Linked DNA regions of Homo sapiens: region 1 is linked to region 2. A link means that fine-mapping ties the variant in region 2 to the expression of a gene that starts in the linked region. Tissue or cell type: whole blood. Region 2 holds a variant in brackets; the other region holds the start of a gene. All regions are shown on one strand. Distances are from middle to middle.

The links. PIP is the estimated chance that this variant, and not a neighbour inherited with it, causes the effect.
Region 1: it holds the start of SOAT1, and the variant in region 2 is fine-mapped to the expression of SOAT1 in whole blood (INTERVAL, PIP above 0.99).

Annotation. Positions count from the first base shown.
Region 1 is chr1:179,290,222-179,298,325 of GRCh38, forward strand. SOAT1 (sterol O-acyltransferase 1) reads left to right here and starts at 3,576. Exons shown (of 16, transcript NM_003101.6): 1 at 3,576-3,715. RefSeq lists a silencer at 3,371-3,560 and an enhancer at 3,773-4,280.
Region 2 is chr1:179,510,726-179,518,829 of GRCh38, forward strand. All of the region lies in intron 21 of AXDND1 (axonemal dynein light chain domain containing 1), which reads left to right. Among named protein-coding and RNA genes, the nearest start is that of NPHS2, 61 kb to the right of the region's middle. RefSeq lists an enhancer at 6,167-7,366. The variant C/T (reference allele first, on the strand shown) is at 3,754.

The DNA of each region.
Region 1 (8,104 bases), 220 kb before region 2:
TTACAGGCATGAGCCACTGTAAAGAATTTTTTTTAACATCTTTTTCTTTTTTTCTTTTTGAGAGGGAGTCTTGCTCTGTTGCCCAGGATGGAGTGCAGTGGCGCGATCTCGGCTCACTGCAACCTCTGCCTCCCAGGTTCAAGAGATTCTCCTGCCTCAGCCTCCCAAGTAGCTAGGATTATAGGCGCCTGCCACCACACCCGGCTAATTTTTTGTATTTTTAGTAGAGACAGGTTTTCACCATGTTGGCCAAGCTGGTCTCGAACTCCTGACCTCAGGTGATCCGCCCACCTTGGCCTCCCAAAGTGCTGAGATTACAGGTGTGAGCGACCACGCCTGGCCTTTAACATCCTTTTATTGTAACACTTATCTCATTGTTTTGAAATGGCTTATACCTATTAGTGTCTCCAATAGACAGTCTTATTCATATTCTTAGCACTAGCAACTATACAAGTTCTGTACACCTGTTTTTTTTTCAATATGATGAAGTCAACACTTGCATTTAACCAAACCTTGATTTCCAAGGATTGAGTAATGTGAGATTTTCAGTGCAGTGGTGGGAGAGGCTTGGAGTCTGAGCACAGGCTTTGGAGTCCCTCCAATCATATATCATCTTTGCCCTTGCACTAAATGGTATCCCCATCCTCTCAATTGCTTAAGGAAACAACCTGGGAGTCATCTCGTTTACTACCTTTCTTCACACCTGCACCTCGGGAAAATATCCTGAAATCTTTCAATTTCTATTTCCACACCAACCAGCCTAGTCCAGGTACCACCATCTACCCCCTGAACTTGCCCAATAACTTTGTATTGTTCTTCGGCTCCTTTTTGTTCCATTGCTGCTCCCTTCAAGTCATTCTCTATAAAATAGGTTGATTTAAAAAAAAAAATAAACCAATGGCCGGGCACGTGGCTCATGCCTGTAATCCCAGCAGTTTGGGAGGCTGAGGCGGGAGGATCACTTGAGCCCAGGAGTTCAGGACCAGCCTGGGCAACACAGCGAAACCCTGTCTCTACAAAAAATACAAAAATTAGTCTGGTGTGGTGACGCCCACCTGTAGTCCCAGGTACTAGGGAGGCTGAGGTGGGAAGATGACTTAGCGAGCCTGGGGAGGTAGAGGATGCAGTGAGCCCTGATTGCACCACTGCACTCCAGCCTGGGCGACAGAGTGAGACCCCATCTCAAAACAACAAAAACCCAAACCCTTCATTATCTTGCCTTTGCACTTAACAGATAAATCCAAACAACGTGATTAGGTTCCTGCTTAATGCTCCAAACTCAACTTCAAACCCCTATTTGACATGCTCAAGCCTCCTGGCCTGTTCCTCAAACAGCCACGCTTCAGCATCAGCCACAGTTCAGCATCGGGGCCTTGACACCCATTATCCTCTGTCTAGAATGTTCTTCCTCCCCATGGTTGGCTTGGCTGGCTCCTTCTTGTCATTTAGGTCTTAGCTCCTGAATTATCTCCTCAGAAAATCCTTCCCTGACCATTCTGTTTTGTTTTCTGCTCAGTACTTATCACTGCCAGTGATTATCTCATCTATTCGTTTTATTATTTATATTCTTCATTAGAAACATAAGCTTTTGTTGTTTGAGACAGAGTCCCACTGTGTTGACCAGGCTGCAGTGCAGTGGCATGATTTTTTGGCTCACTGCATCCTCCGTCCCTCACCCCCCATCCCCCACCACAAGCAATCCTCTTATCTCAGCCTCCCGAGTAGCTGGGACCATAGGGGCCTGCCACAATTCCCAGCAAATTTTGTTGTCATTGTTGTTGTTGTTGTTGTTGTTTTTAAATTCTGTAGAGAGGGAGTCTCACTATGTTGCTCAGGCTGGTCTTGGACTCCTGGCCTCAAAGTGATCCTCCTGCCTCAGCCTCCCAAAGTGCTGGGATTATAGGCTTGAGCCACCTGTTTGTTTCCTTTCATACCTAGTCCTGCAGAACATAAGCCTCTAAGTGCAGGGGCTTCTTCTGTTTATTCACCACTGTATTTCTAGCACCAAGAATACTATCAATATTTTTTGAATGAATGAATCAAACAGTGAAAAGGCCAGTCATCTTGGTGTATATAGAAGGTAGCCAACAGAGACCCAATAGAAATGAGTGCCTATGTTCCTACTGCTCTATAACTAGTGGGAGTGGGGAGGGGAAGCAGCTGGGGGTCTACCAGACCCTGTCACCAACTAGTCAGCACACGTGGCAATCACAGTTGTAGAAGAGGCCAAACGGAGCAGATCTGCCAATGACAGCCAGTACTAAACTCGACTGGATGCTGAGGGCCATTTCTGCTTTGAGTGAACAGTGCAGCCTGCTGGGTGGCCAAGGGAACGTGTACAAATCCACTTTGTTTAAAGGACCCAGAGAGTAGTCAGTTCTGCTAAACCTCATCTGTTTGTTCAGGGATTTTTGTCCTGGGGAGGAGTGGGGAAGAAGCGATTAGTCAGGCCAGGCTAGCTGGTATTAGTTTGCAGGCTGTGAGTGCGACTCTTCAGTCTCTGCTCCTCTCATCATTGCCTTTTCACCTACCTTTACCCTAAATTTACGTACACCTCTGCCTTCACAAATTCCAAGCGATTAACTGTTGTATTTAATCTCTGTCCCAAATCTCTCTGCATCATTCTTCTTTTGATTATGAAGTCACGAGGGCCCTTTGTTTATTTTATTTTTAAAACTTTTTTTGAGAAGGAGTTTAGCTCTTATTGCCCAGGCTGGAGTGCAATGGCACAATCTAGGCTCACTGCAACCTCTGGCTTCCGGGTTCAAGCAATCCTCCTGCCTCAGCCTCCCGAATAGCTGGGATTACAGGCGCGCGCCACCAAGCCCGGCTAATTTTTTGTATTTAGTAGAGACGGGGTTTCACCATGTTGGTCAGGCTGGTCTCGATCCTAACCTCAGGTGACCCAGCCACCTCGGTCTCCCAAAGTGTTGGGATTACAGGCGTGAGCCACCGCACCTGGCCTCAAGGGCCCTTAAATATTACTTAGTTGTTCCATTATTTGGTGTGTTTTATTATTTGGTGCAGGTTTTTTCCCCTTATCTAGTTTGAATGTTGCTGAAGGACGCTGGTTTTCAAACGGTAAGGAATCTCCTGATAAAGGCACGAATCTTGGTGTGCAGATAAGCCAGCGATTCTTGCTTCTGGCTAGTTCTACGTTGTTCCTGGATGGTCAGTTCAAACTGCAATGATCCACAGCTCCAGAAGCGGCTTCTTCCAGTCGGCCTAGGAGCCAAACGCCCCTGCAGCTCCATGCTACCACGCAGGGTGCCGTTTCGGGCTTGCAGGGAGTTGTCGCAGTCCCGTTTTGGCTGCACATTCTACTGCTGGGGTGGAAGTGTCAAGCAAGATGTTGTCGCCGGTATCATGATGTCCGGGTGAGAAGCTTCCTTGGCAGGTTGCCAGGGCCAGCCTGCGAGCACTGGCGCCGGGGACCCGCGCGCCCGGGAAGGGGCGGGGAGGTGGGCGGAGCCTGGCAACCTGGGGACCACCAATAGGATGCTCAGCCGGAGGTGGCCCTGCGCGTGACGCAGCGGTGCTCGGAGGCAGGGGGCGTAGGGGCCGGGCTGTCCGGCGCTTTAGCTTAGCAGGCGACGTTGCGGGCCCTGGGCGCCAGGAGAGCTTCCCGGAGTCGACCTTCCTGCTGGCTGCTCTGTGACCGCTTCCCGGCTCTGCCCTCTTGGCCGAAGTGCCCGCTGCCGGGCGCGGGCCTCAGGTAACGGTGGTGCTCCCGCGCCTCTCCTCGCTTCCCGCTTGGGTCCACCGGCCTCAGCCCGCGGGGAAGGGAGAAGCGGTGGCGGCAGCAGCTCCGGCCCGGCCTTGTCCTGGGCTGTGCTGCGGAGAAGGCGAGGCTCGGCGACTGCAGGGGAGTTGGGGAGGGGAGGGCGGGAAAGTTACCGTCAGGCGCCCGGGTCACGGGCAGCCTTTTAAACCCTGCACGCTGGTTTGGTGTTCCGCAAATCTCGTGGCATCTCTCAAGTCAGTAGTAAAGAAAGTTAGGAATTAGAAGACGTTTTATTCTTTAAAAAGCGAAACCAAAAATGCACTCAGGAAGTCAGCTTTTTAATGATTTAGAGAAAATGTGTGAAGGGAAGGATGGTATTAGCAAGACATGAAAATCTGTAGGGGCACCAGAACCTTTAATCAAGCTCATGTTTTATTGTAAAATATTAGGATGTAGGTAAGTTTCTGTTTTCCCTAAGTGTTAATGGTCATGTAATTTAAATAATATGTATATTGAAAGGTTATTTCTAAGTGAGAAACAACTATATAAACTTTATTCTCCGTATATATATTTAGGTTAAGTTCGTTGGTCACTTTTGTTTGTTTGAGACGGAGTCTCGCTGTGTCGCAAGGCTGGAGTGCAGTGGCGCAATCTCGGCTCACTGCAACCTCTGCCTCCCGGGTTCAAGCGATTCTTGTGCCTCAGCCTCCTGAGTAGCTGGGATTACAGGCGTGCGCCACCACGCCCAGGTAATTTTTGTAGTTTTAGTAGAGACGGGGTTTCACCATGTTGGACCAGGTTGGTCTCAAACTCCTGACCTCAAGTGATCCGCCCGCTTCGGCCTCCCAAAGTGCTGGGATTACAGGCGTGAGCCACCGCGCCTGGCCTGTTGGTCACTTTTTAATATTTAAGTGGCTGCCACCTGTTTAAACCACTTTTTTCTTTTTTTCAGCCTGCTTGATTTCCTCTTCCTTGAAGTAGAATTCAATTTGAAGCTTTTTTTTTTTCTTTTTAAAAGTTGGGCGGTGTCAGTGAATGACTTGTTAAGGAAGTCTGTGCGTTGTCTGGGTGTGAGAATGGGTTTTGGAAGGAGCTCTGTGGCACTGAATTATCGTTTAGAAATGCACGTGTTTTAGTGAATCACATGCTTAGAATGCATCTGAGGTTTCGCAGTCTTTTAGGATAAAGACCTACTGAGTGAGCACACTCTATCTCTGGTTCATTTGGCCCACTTTCCTTCTGGCTTTCCAGGTTCATGCCACACTGGCTTTATTTTTGTTACTGGAAAGCTTCATTTTCTTTCCTCTCTTGGCTTTTAGGAGTTTCCTCCACCTCTAATGCTGTATTCTCTCCCTCCCTCCAACTCTTATACCTGCCTCAGATATCAGCCCACATATCACTTCCTCTGGAAATCACCCCATCCCCATTAAGCCCTCCATGAACTCTTTATTCTCCTTAGCAGAAGTTGATCATTAATTGTAATGAATTAGTTGCTTTGTTTCCTCTGCTAGTGCATTTCATGAAGGCTGGTTTAGCCTGTTGTAATTTTCAGGGTCTGGTCCAGCACTTGGCCCAGAGAAAGAATGAATAAGTTGGTGGACAGAGGAAGGAACTTTTGAATGAGAAATACAGTGATCCCCACTTAACTGCTTTCTGTAGTTTCAGCTACCTGAGGTGCGAAACAGAGTACAATAAGACATTTCGAGAGATACCATGTTCAAGTGAATTTTAATACAGTATATTGTTAATCTCTTACTGTGCCTAACTTTTTGAAACTTTGCCTCCCAGGTTCAAGGGATATTCATGCCCCAGCCTCCCAAGTAGCTGGGATTACAGGCGTGTCCCAGTACGCCCGGCTAATTTTTTTTTTTTTTTTTGAGATGGAGTTTGGCGCTTGTTGCCCAGGCTGGAATGGCACGATCTCGGCTCCCCGCAACCTCCGCCTCCCGGGTTCAAGCGATTCTCCGCCTCAGCCTCCCAAGTAGCTGGGATTACGGGCATGTGCTACCACGCCCGGCTAATTTTTTTTTTTTTTTTTTTTTTTTTTTTTTTTTTTAGTAAAGACTGATCAGATCTTACTGGTCAGGCTGGTCTCGAACTTCCAACCTCAGGTGATCCACCCGCCTCAGCCTCCCAAAGTGCTGGGATTACAGGCGTGAGCCACCGCGCCCAGCTCACCCGGCTAATTTTTGTATTTTTAGTAGAGACAGGGAGGGTTTCACTGTGTTGGCCAGACTGGTCTCAAACTCCTGATCTCAGATGATCGGTCTGCCTCGGCCTCCCAAAGAGGTGGGATTACAGGCGTGAGCCACTGTGCCCAGCCTGTAAATGAAACTTTATAATAGGTATGTATAGGAAAAAACAACGTGTATTGGGTTCACTGTTATTCACAGTTCTAGGCATCCACTGGGAGTCTTGGACCGTATCCCCCATGGATATGGGAGAACTACTGTATTAACCAGGGAAGAGTCCCTTTTTCCTATGGGAAAAAGTTTTTAACAAAGACCAGCCAAGTTCTATTTTTCTAAGAGGATGGCTTTGTTTTGCATTTTTTTTGCCACATTGGTTAATAAGAGATTATACTAACCATACAGATGTAAATGAGAATTTGTTCTTGTTCTTTAGTTTTGCTAATTACTTAAAGACCTAGTTCTGTGATATGTAAAAGTTGTAGCGTTGTGTTAGGGCCAACCTTTGGGTGCCAGAGGGAAATTTTTTTTGCTCTGGATTGTAAATTCTATCCACAGTTGTGTCCCCTTTCCACCACTGAATCTAAGGGTGATGTGGCAAAGTTCTTTACCTGGAGTAGGCACTCAGTATTTGTGATACAGATTTATGGGCTCTTTTGAAAGCTGTATTAATGGGAACACGGAGGCAGGCTAAAGTTGACATGTCTTTCCAAGTTCATTTGTTTCTCAAATCATTTCTTTTTGTTTTGCTTTCTTAAGATAAGTTAGATGCTTATCACACTGAACATTATGTAATTGCGTGCACAGATTAGATTCTTAAGAAATTCTTTTTCAATCAGTGTGTTGTATAAATAGCTGTCTACTTAGCTTTGTTACCTGGGGGGGAATAGCTTTATGTTACCTGTGACTTTGAACAAGTTTGTTAGCATTTCTGAATCTCCTGCATCTTTAAAAATGGACATGTTAAATGAGATATGTGCTACACCTACTGCACTCAGCACTTTGTTACCTGCTTCCTAAACGCTAGAGATTCCTTCACTGCTAGACCTCTTGAGAGACTAGTCTTATGATCACTGTTTTCACTTCCTCAACTTACTGGCGGTGTACTCCAATATATTTATTTGTCCTTCCTCCTAAAACTGTGCATGTAATCAAATCATAGCTATTAATGTCCCCCAATTGTGAAATATCCCATGTCCTGTCCTTTTCTTTTCTTTTTTGAGACGGAGTCCAGCTCTGTCACCCAGGCTGGAGTGCAGTGGCGCGATCTCGGCTCACTGCAACCTCCGCCTCCTGGGTTCAAGCAATTCTCTGCTTCGGCCTCCCGAGTAGCTGGGATTACAGGCACCTGCCATCACCCCTGGCTAATTTTTTGTATTTTTAGTAGAGACGGGGTTTCATCATCTTGGCCAGGCCAGTCTAGAATTCCTGACCTTGTGATCCACCCGCCTCAGCCTCCCAAAGTGCTGGGATTACAGGCGTGAGCCGGTGCGCTTGTTTAAGAAACAGTGGAAGGCCAAAGTAATGAGTAGAGAAAATGAGACAGCCAAGATCATGCCACTGCACTTCAACCTGGGCGACATGGCATGACTCCGTCTCAAAAAAAAAAAAAAAATGCCGGGCGCGGTGGCTCACACCTGTAATCCCAGCACTTTGGGAGGCCGAGGCAGGCGGATCACCTGAGGTTGGGAGTTCGACACCCCATCTCTACTAAAAATACAAAATTAGCTGGGTGTGGTGGCCTGTAACCCCAGCTGCTCCAGAGGCTGAGGCAGGAGAATCGCTTGAATCCAGGAGGCGGAGGTTGCGGTGAGCTGAGATCGTGCCATTGCACTCCAGTCTGACCAACAAGAGTGAAACTCTGTCTCAAAAAAAAAAAAAGATTGATGGTGTTTAAGGGGGTGGTGGTGAGTGGCAGGCAATGCAGAAGTTACTAGATCATGGTAAGGACTTAGGATGTTTGAAGGGGTTTAAGTTGTGAAGTGACTTGATCTAACTTGAGTGCAATGGTGTGATTGAGGTTCACTGCAACCTCCACCTCCGGGTTCAAGCGATTCTTCTGCCTCAGCCTCCTGAGTAGCTGGGACTACAGGTGCCTGCCACCACACCTGGCTAATTTTTTGTATTTTTAGTAGAGACGAGGTTTCACCGTGCTAGGCTAGCCAGGATGGTCTCGATCTCCTGACCTGGT
Region 2 (8,104 bases):
GCATGAATCTGACAAGTCTTTTATTTTTTATTTTTCCATAGGTTACTGGGGTACAGGTGGTGTTTGGTTACATGAGTAAGTTCTTTAGTGGTGATTTCTGAGATTTTGGTGCACCCATCACTCGAGTAGTATACACTGCACCCTATTTGTAGTCTTTTATCCCTTGCCCCCCTCCCACCCTTCCCCCCAAATCCCCAAAGTCCATTGTATCATTCTTATGCCTTTGCATCCTCATAGCTTAGCTCCCACACATCAGTGAGAACATATGGTGTTTCGTTTTCCATTCTTGAGCTACTTCACTTACAATAAGAGTCTCCTGTAGTCCCAGCTACTCAGGAGGCTGAGGCAGGAGAATCGCTTGAACCCAGGAGGTGGAGGCTGCAGTGAGCCGAGATCACGCCACTGCATTCCAGCCTGGGCGACAGAGTGAGACTCTGTCCCCCACAAAAAAAAAAAGTTTCTCCAGTCTCATCCAGGTCACTGAAAATGCTGTTAATTCATTCCTCTTCATGGCTGAGTAGCATTCCATCATATATATACATATATAATATGGTAGTGTGTGTATATATATATATATTCCAATCATATACATAATATGATTTTATATATATATACACACACTACCACATATATATGGTATAATATATACATAGTATATGGTATATGGGGTGTGTGTGTGTGTGTGTGTGTGTGTGTGTATATGTATATACACCACAGATTTTTATCCACTTGTTGATTGATGGGCATTTGGGTTGGTTCCATGATTTTGCAATTGTGAATTGTGCTGCTATAAACATGCGTGTGCAAGCATCTTTTTCCTATAATGACTTCTTTTCCTCTGGGTAGATACCCAGTAATGAGATTGCTGGATCAAATGGTAATTCTACTTTTAGTTCTTTAAGGAATCTCCACACTGTTTTCCATAGTGGCTCTACTAGTTTACATTCCCTCCAGCAGTGTAGAAGTGTTCCTTGATGACCGCATTCATGGCAACATCTACCGTTTCTTGATTTTTTGATTATGGCCATTCTTGCAGGAGTAGGGTGGTATTGCATTGTCGTTTTGATTTGCATTTCCCTGATCATTAGTGAGGCTGAGCTTTTTTTCATATATTTGTTGGCCATTTGTGTCTCTTCTTTTGATAATTGTCTATTCATGTCCTTAGCCCACTTTTTGATGTGATTGTTTGTTTCATTTCTTGCTGATTTGTTGGAGTTTGTTTTAGATTCTGGATATTAGTCCTTTGTCAGATGTAAAGATTGTGAAGATTTTCTCCCACTCTGTGCGTTGTCTGTTTACTCTGCTGACTGTTCCTTTTGCTGTGCAAAAGCTCTTTAGTTTAATTAAGCCCCAGCTATTTATCTTTGTTTTATTGCATTTGCTTTTGGGTTCTTGGTCATGAAATCTTTGCCTAAGCCAATGTCTAGAAGGGTTTTTCCAATGTTATGTCTAGAATTTTTATAGTTTCAGGTCTTAGATTTAAGTCCTTAATCCATCTTGAGTTGATTTTTGTATAAGGTGAGAGATGAGGATCCAGTTTCGTTCTCCTACATGTGGCTAGCCAATTATCCCAGCACCATTTGTTTAAAAGGGTGTCCTTTCCCCACTTTATGTTTCTGTTTGCTTTGTTGAAGATCAGTTGGCTATAAGTATTTGGATTTATTTCTGGGTTCTCTATTCTGTTCCATTGGTCTATATGCCTGTTTTTATACCAGTACCATGCTGTTTTGGTTACTATGGCCTTATAGTATAGTTTGAAATCAGGTAGTGCGATGCCTTCAGATTTGTTCTTCATGCTTAGTCTTGCTTTGGCTATGCGGGCTCTATTTTGGTTTCATATGAATTTTAGAATTTTTTTTTCTAATTATGTGAAGAATGATAGTGGTGTTCTGATGGGGATTGCATTGAATTTGTAGATTGCTTTTAGCAGTATGGCTATTTTCACAGTATTGATTCTACTCATCCGTGAGCTTGGGGTGTGTTTCCATTTGTTTATGTTGTCTATGATTTCTTTCAGCAGTGTTTGTAGTTTTCCTTATAGAGGTCTTTTGCCTCCTTGGTTAGGTATATCTCTAAGTATTTTATTATTTTTGCAGCTGTTGTAAAGGGGTTGAGTTCTTGATTTGACTCTCCGCTTGGTAGCTGTTGGTGTAGAGAAGAGCTACTGATTTGTGTACATTAGTCTTGTATCCGGAAACTTTGCTGAATTCTTTTATCATTTCTAGGAGCTTTCTGGAGAGTCTTTAGGGTTTTCAAGGTAAATGATCATATTGTCAGGAAACAATGACAGTTTGACTTCCTCTTTACCAATTTGGGTGTCCTTTATTTCCTTCTCTTGTCTGATTGCTCTGGCTGGGACTTCCAGTTCTATGTTGAAGAGGAGTGGTGAGAGTGGGTAGGTATCCTTGTCTCATTCCAGTTCTCAGAGAGAATGCTTTCAGCTTTCCCCATCCAATATTATGTTTGCTGTGGATTTGCCATAGATGGCTTTTAATACATTGAGTTATGTCCATTGTATGCTGATTTTGCTGAGAGTTTTAATCATAAAGGGATGCTGGATTTTGTTGAATGCTTTTTCTGCATCTATTGAGATGATCATGTGACTTTTGTTTTTAATTCTGTTTATGTGGTGTATCACATTTATTGACTTGTGTATGTTAAACCATCCCTGCATCCCTGCTATGTAACCCACGTGATCATGGTGGATTATCTTTTTGATATGTTGTTGGATTCAGTTAGCGAGTATTTTGTTAAAGATTTTAGTGTCTGTGTTTATCAGGGATGTCAGTCTGTGGTTTTCTTTTTTAGATATGTCCTTTCCTGGTTTTGGTATTAGGGTGATTCTGCCTTCATAGAATGAATTAGGGAAGGTTCCCTTTTTTCTCTATCTTGTGGAATAGTGTCAAAAGGATTGGTATCAATTCTTTGAATGTCTGGTAGAATTCTGCTGTGAATCCTTCTGGTCCTGGACTTTTTTTTTGTTGGTAATTTTTTAATTACCATTTAAATCTTGGTGCTTGCTATTGGTCTGTTCAGGGTATCTAATTCTTTCTGAGTTAAGCTAGGAGTGTTGTATTTTTCCAGGAATTTATCCATCTCTTCTAGGTTTTCTAGTTTATGTGCATAAAGATGTTCTTAGTAGCCTTGAATGATCTTTTGTATTTCAGCGGTGTCAGTTGTAATATGTCCAGTTTTGTGTCTTAATTAGGTTATTTGGATTTTTTCTGTTCTTTTCTTGGTTAATCTTGCTAATAGTCTATCAAATTTATTTATCTTTTCCAAGAACTAGCTTTTTGTTTCATTTATCTTTTGTATTTTTTTTGTTTGTTTATTTCAATTTCATTTAATTCTGCTCTGATCTTGGTTATTTCCTTTCTTCTGCTGGGTTTGGGTTTGGTTTGTTCTTGTTTCTCTAGTTCCTTGAGGTGTGACCTTAGAATGTCGGTTTGTATTCTTTCCGTCTTTTTGATATAGGCATTTAATGCTATGAACTCTTCTCTTAGCACAGCCTTTGCTGTATCCCAGAGGTTTTGATAGGTAGTGTCATTATTGTTGTTCAGTTCAAAGAATTTTTAATTTCCGTCTGAGTTTTGTTTTTGACCAAATGATCATTCAGGAGCAGGTTATTTAACGTCCATGTATTTGCATGGTCTTGAAGGTTCCTTTTGGAGTTGATTTCCAATTTTATTCCACTCTGAGAGAGTGCTTGATATAATTTCAATTTTCTTAAATTTATTGAGGCTCATCTAGTGG[C/T]CTATCACATGGTCTATCTTGGAGAAGGTTCTGTGCACTGTTGAATAGAATGTGTATTCTGTGGTTGTTGGAGAAAATGTTTTGTATATATCTGCTAAGTCCATTTGTTCCAAGGTATAGTTTAAATCCATTGTTTCTTTGTTGACTTTTTGTGTTGATGTCCTGTCTAGTGCTGTCAGTGGAGTATTGAAGTCCCCCACTGTTATGTATTGCTGTCTATCTCATTTCTTAGGTCTGTTAGTAATTGTTTTACAAATTTGGGAGCACCAGTGTTAGGTGCATATATGTTTAGGATTGTGATATTTTCTTGTTGGACAAGGCCTTTACCATTATATAATGTCCCTCTTTGTCTCTTCAACTGCTGTTGCTTTAAAGTTTGTTTTGTCTGATATAAGAATAGCTACCCCTGCTCGCTTTTGGTGTCCATTTGCATGAAATGCTTTTTCCAACCTTTTTATTTCAGTTTATGTAGTCCTTATGTGTTAGGTGAGTATCCTGAAGGGAGCAGATGGTTGGTGAGTTCTTATCCATTCTGCAGTTTTGTATCTTTTAGGTAGAGCATTTAAGCCATTTACATTCAATGTTACTATTGAGATGTGAGATACCATTCCATTCATCGTGCTATTTGTTGACTTTGTACCTTGGTTTTTTGTTTTTTATTTTTGCTTTTTAAATTTTCATTTTTTTTGTTTTATAAGTCCTGTGTGATTTATGCTTTAAAGAGCTTCTGTTTTGATGTGTTTCCAGGATTAGAGCTCTTTTTAGCAGTTCTTGGTAGTGGTGGCTTGGTAGTGGCGAATTCTCTCAGCATTTGTTTGTCTGGAAAAGACTATATCTTTCCTTCATATATGATGCTTAGTTTCGCTGGATACAAAATTCTTGGCTGATAATTGTTTTGTTTGAGGAGGCTGAAGATAGGGCCCCAATCCCTTCCAGCTTGTAGGGTGTCTGCTGAGAAAACTGCTGTTAATCTGTTAGGTTTTCCTTTATAGGGTACCTGATGCTTTTGTCTCACAGATGTTAAGATTCTTTTCTTCGTCTTAACTTTAGATAACCTGATGACAACGTGCCTAGGTGATGATCTTTTTGCGATGAATTTCCCAGGTGTTCTTTGTGCTTCTTGTATTTGGATGTCTAGATCTCTAGCGAGGCCAGGGAAGTTTTCCTCAATTATTCCCCCAAATATGTTTTCCAAACTTTTAGATTTCTTTTCTTCCTCAGGAACATCAATTATTCTTTTTTTTAATCCACAAAAAAATTATAATGTAAGTTAAAGTACAAATGAGGGTTCATTTTTTTTACTCATCATATTGGCAAAAGTTAAGAAATTGCAAGATACAGTCATGCACTGCATAAGGATGTTTTAGTTAACAACAGACTGCAGATAAGATAGCAGTCCCATAAGATTATAAGACTGTATTTTTACTATACCTTTTCTATGTTAAGATACACAGATACAAACCATTGTGTTACAGTTGCCTACAGTATTCAGTGTAGTACATGCTGTACAGGTTTATAGCCTGGGAGCAAAAGGTTATATCATATAGCCAAGGTGTGTGTGGTGGGCTATACCCTCCATTTGTATAAGTACACTATGAGGAACATCAATTATTCTTAGGTTTGGTCATTTAACATAATCCCAGACTTCTTGGAGGCTTTGTTCATATTTTCTTTTTCTTTTTTCTTTGTCTTTGTTGGATTGGGTTAATTCGAAGACCTGGTCTTCGAGCTCTGAATTTCTTTCTTCTACTTGTTCAATTCTATTGCTGAGACTTTCCAGAGCATTTTGCAGTTCTGTAAGTGTGCCCAATTTCCCTGATGTTTTGATTGCTTTTTCTTTATGCCATCTATTTCCTTGAATATTTCTCCCTTTCCTTCTTGTATCATTTTTTTGGATTTCCTTGCATTGGGCTTCGCCTTTCTCTGGTGCCTCCCTGATTAGCTTAATAACTAACATCCTGAATTCTTTTTCATGTAAATCAGGGATTTCTTCTTGGTTTGGAACCATTGCTGGTGAGCTAGTGTGATTTTCTGGGGGTGTTAAAGAGCCTTGTTTTGTCATAGTACCAGAGTTGGTTTTCTGGTTCCTTCTCATTTGGGTAGGCTCTGTCAGAGGGAAGGTATAGAGCTGAAGTCTTTTGTTCAGATTCTTTTGTCCCATGGGGTTCTCCCTTGATGTAGTACTCTCCCCCTTTTCCTATGGATGTGGCTTCCTATGAGCTGAACTGTAGTAATTGTTATCTCTCTTCTTGGTCTAGCCACCCAGCAAGCCTACCTGGTTCTGGGCTGGTGCTGGGGGTTATCTGCACAGAGTCCTGTGATGTGAACCGTCTATGGCTCCCTCAGTCGTGGATACCAGCACCTGTTCTAGTGGAGGTGGCAGCGGGGGTGAAACAGTTCGTGAGGGTTCTTAGCTTTGGTGGTTTAATGTTCTGTTTTTGTGCTGCTTGGTCTCCTGCCGGGAGGTGGCACTTTCCAAAGAGCATCAGCTGTGATAGTATGGAGAGGAACTGGTGGTGGGCAGAGCCCCAGAACTCCCAAGAGTATATTTCTTCATATACCCTACCCACCCTTTGTCTTCAGCTACCAGGTCGGGGCAGGGCTAGGCGTGTCTGAGCTCAGATTCTTCTTGGGCAGGTCTTGCTGTGGCTGCTGTGGGGAATGGGGGTGAGTTTCCCAGGTCAGTGGAGTTATGTACCTAGGAGGATTATGGCTGCCTCTGCTGAGTCATGCAGGTTGTCAGGGAAGTGGGGGAAAGCAGGCGGTCACAGACCTCACCTGGTCTCCACACAATCTGAAGGGCTGGTCTTACTCCCACCATGCCCCTACTAACAGCCTTAAGGCTGTTTCCAGGCAGTGGGCAAGCAGGACTTGAGAACTTGTCCCATGCTACCTGCCTCCCAGCTGCAAAAGAAAAGAGTTTTGGTTGTTCTTCCCCCTGTGGAGTCTGTACACTGGATTCATGCCCTCCCCTGAGTTCTAGCGGGAGGCACCTCGCCCGATTCAAATTGTTACAAAGTTCAGCTGGAGACTTCCTTCTCCTTGGGGCGTTTTCCCCTGTGCCTCTGGCCGCCCTCCCGAAGGATCCCTGTGGTGCCAGGCAGGAATGGCCTGCTTGGGGACCCTGCGAACTCCCAGAGCCTTTCCTGCTGCTTCCTCTACCCCTGTATTTTGCTCGGCTCTCTAAATTGACTCAGCTCCAGGTAAGGTTGGAAACTTCTCCTGCAAACCAGACCTTCAGTTTCCCCAGTGGGGGTGTGTTTGGGAGTGGAGGGTCTCCCTTTCCCACTTTCGCAGTTTGGGCACTCACAGTATTTGGGGTGTCTCCCAGGTCCTGCAGGAGCAGTCCACTGCCTTCGGAGGGTCTTTGGGTCCTCTCGGGATTCCTGCTTTGTTCTTGCAGTCATTCTGGAGCTAAAATTTCTCACGTGAGCCTCCACACACTGCTCTGTCCATCTGAGTTGGAGCTACAATCTAGTCCTACTTCCCATCCACCAGGATGATCTTCTCTTTTATCTGATGATGAGTCTTAATATAACATCCATACTTGATCATTATGCTTAAGTTTGAATATCTGAAGTGACAGAGAACTACTTTCAGAAAGACTCCATTCATTTTTGGTGAGCACTGAGTATTAGAACATTAATTCTTTCTATTGAACTAAATGTAATATGTCTCCTCGTAGCTTTAGCTTTTTCTGCGAACTGGTCCTAGTTCAGTCTTTTCTGGTTAATATGAACAGGGCTGATTTGTCTTCCATATGATAATATTTCCAACATTTAAAAACAGCTGTATTCAACCTAAGTCTATTTTTTGATTTTCTATTCTTTTCTATTGATCTGTCTATTAGTGGGTCATTACCACAATATTTTAATTATTGAGGCTTTATGATACATTTTCCTTTTTCTTTTTTTTTTTTTTGACTTTTAAGTTCGGGGTACATGTGCAGGTTTGTCACAAAGGTAAACTTGTGTCATGGAGGTTTGTTGTACAGATTATTTCATCACCTAGGTATTGAGCCTAGTACCCATTAGCTGTTTTTCTTGATCCTCTCCCTCTGTCCATCCTCCACCATCCGAAAGGCCCCAGTATGTATTGTTCCCCTTTGTGTGTCCATGTGGTCTCATCATTTAGGTCCCACTTAACAGGGAAAATGTAGTATTTGGTTTTCTCTTCCTGTGTTAGTTTGCTAAGAATAATGGCCTCTAGCTCCATCCATGTCCCTGCAAATGACATGATCTCATTCTTTTTTATGGCTGCATAGTATTCCATGGTGTATATGTACTGCATTTTCTTTATCTAGTCTATCATTGATGGATATTTAGGTTAGTTCCATGTCATTGCTATTGTG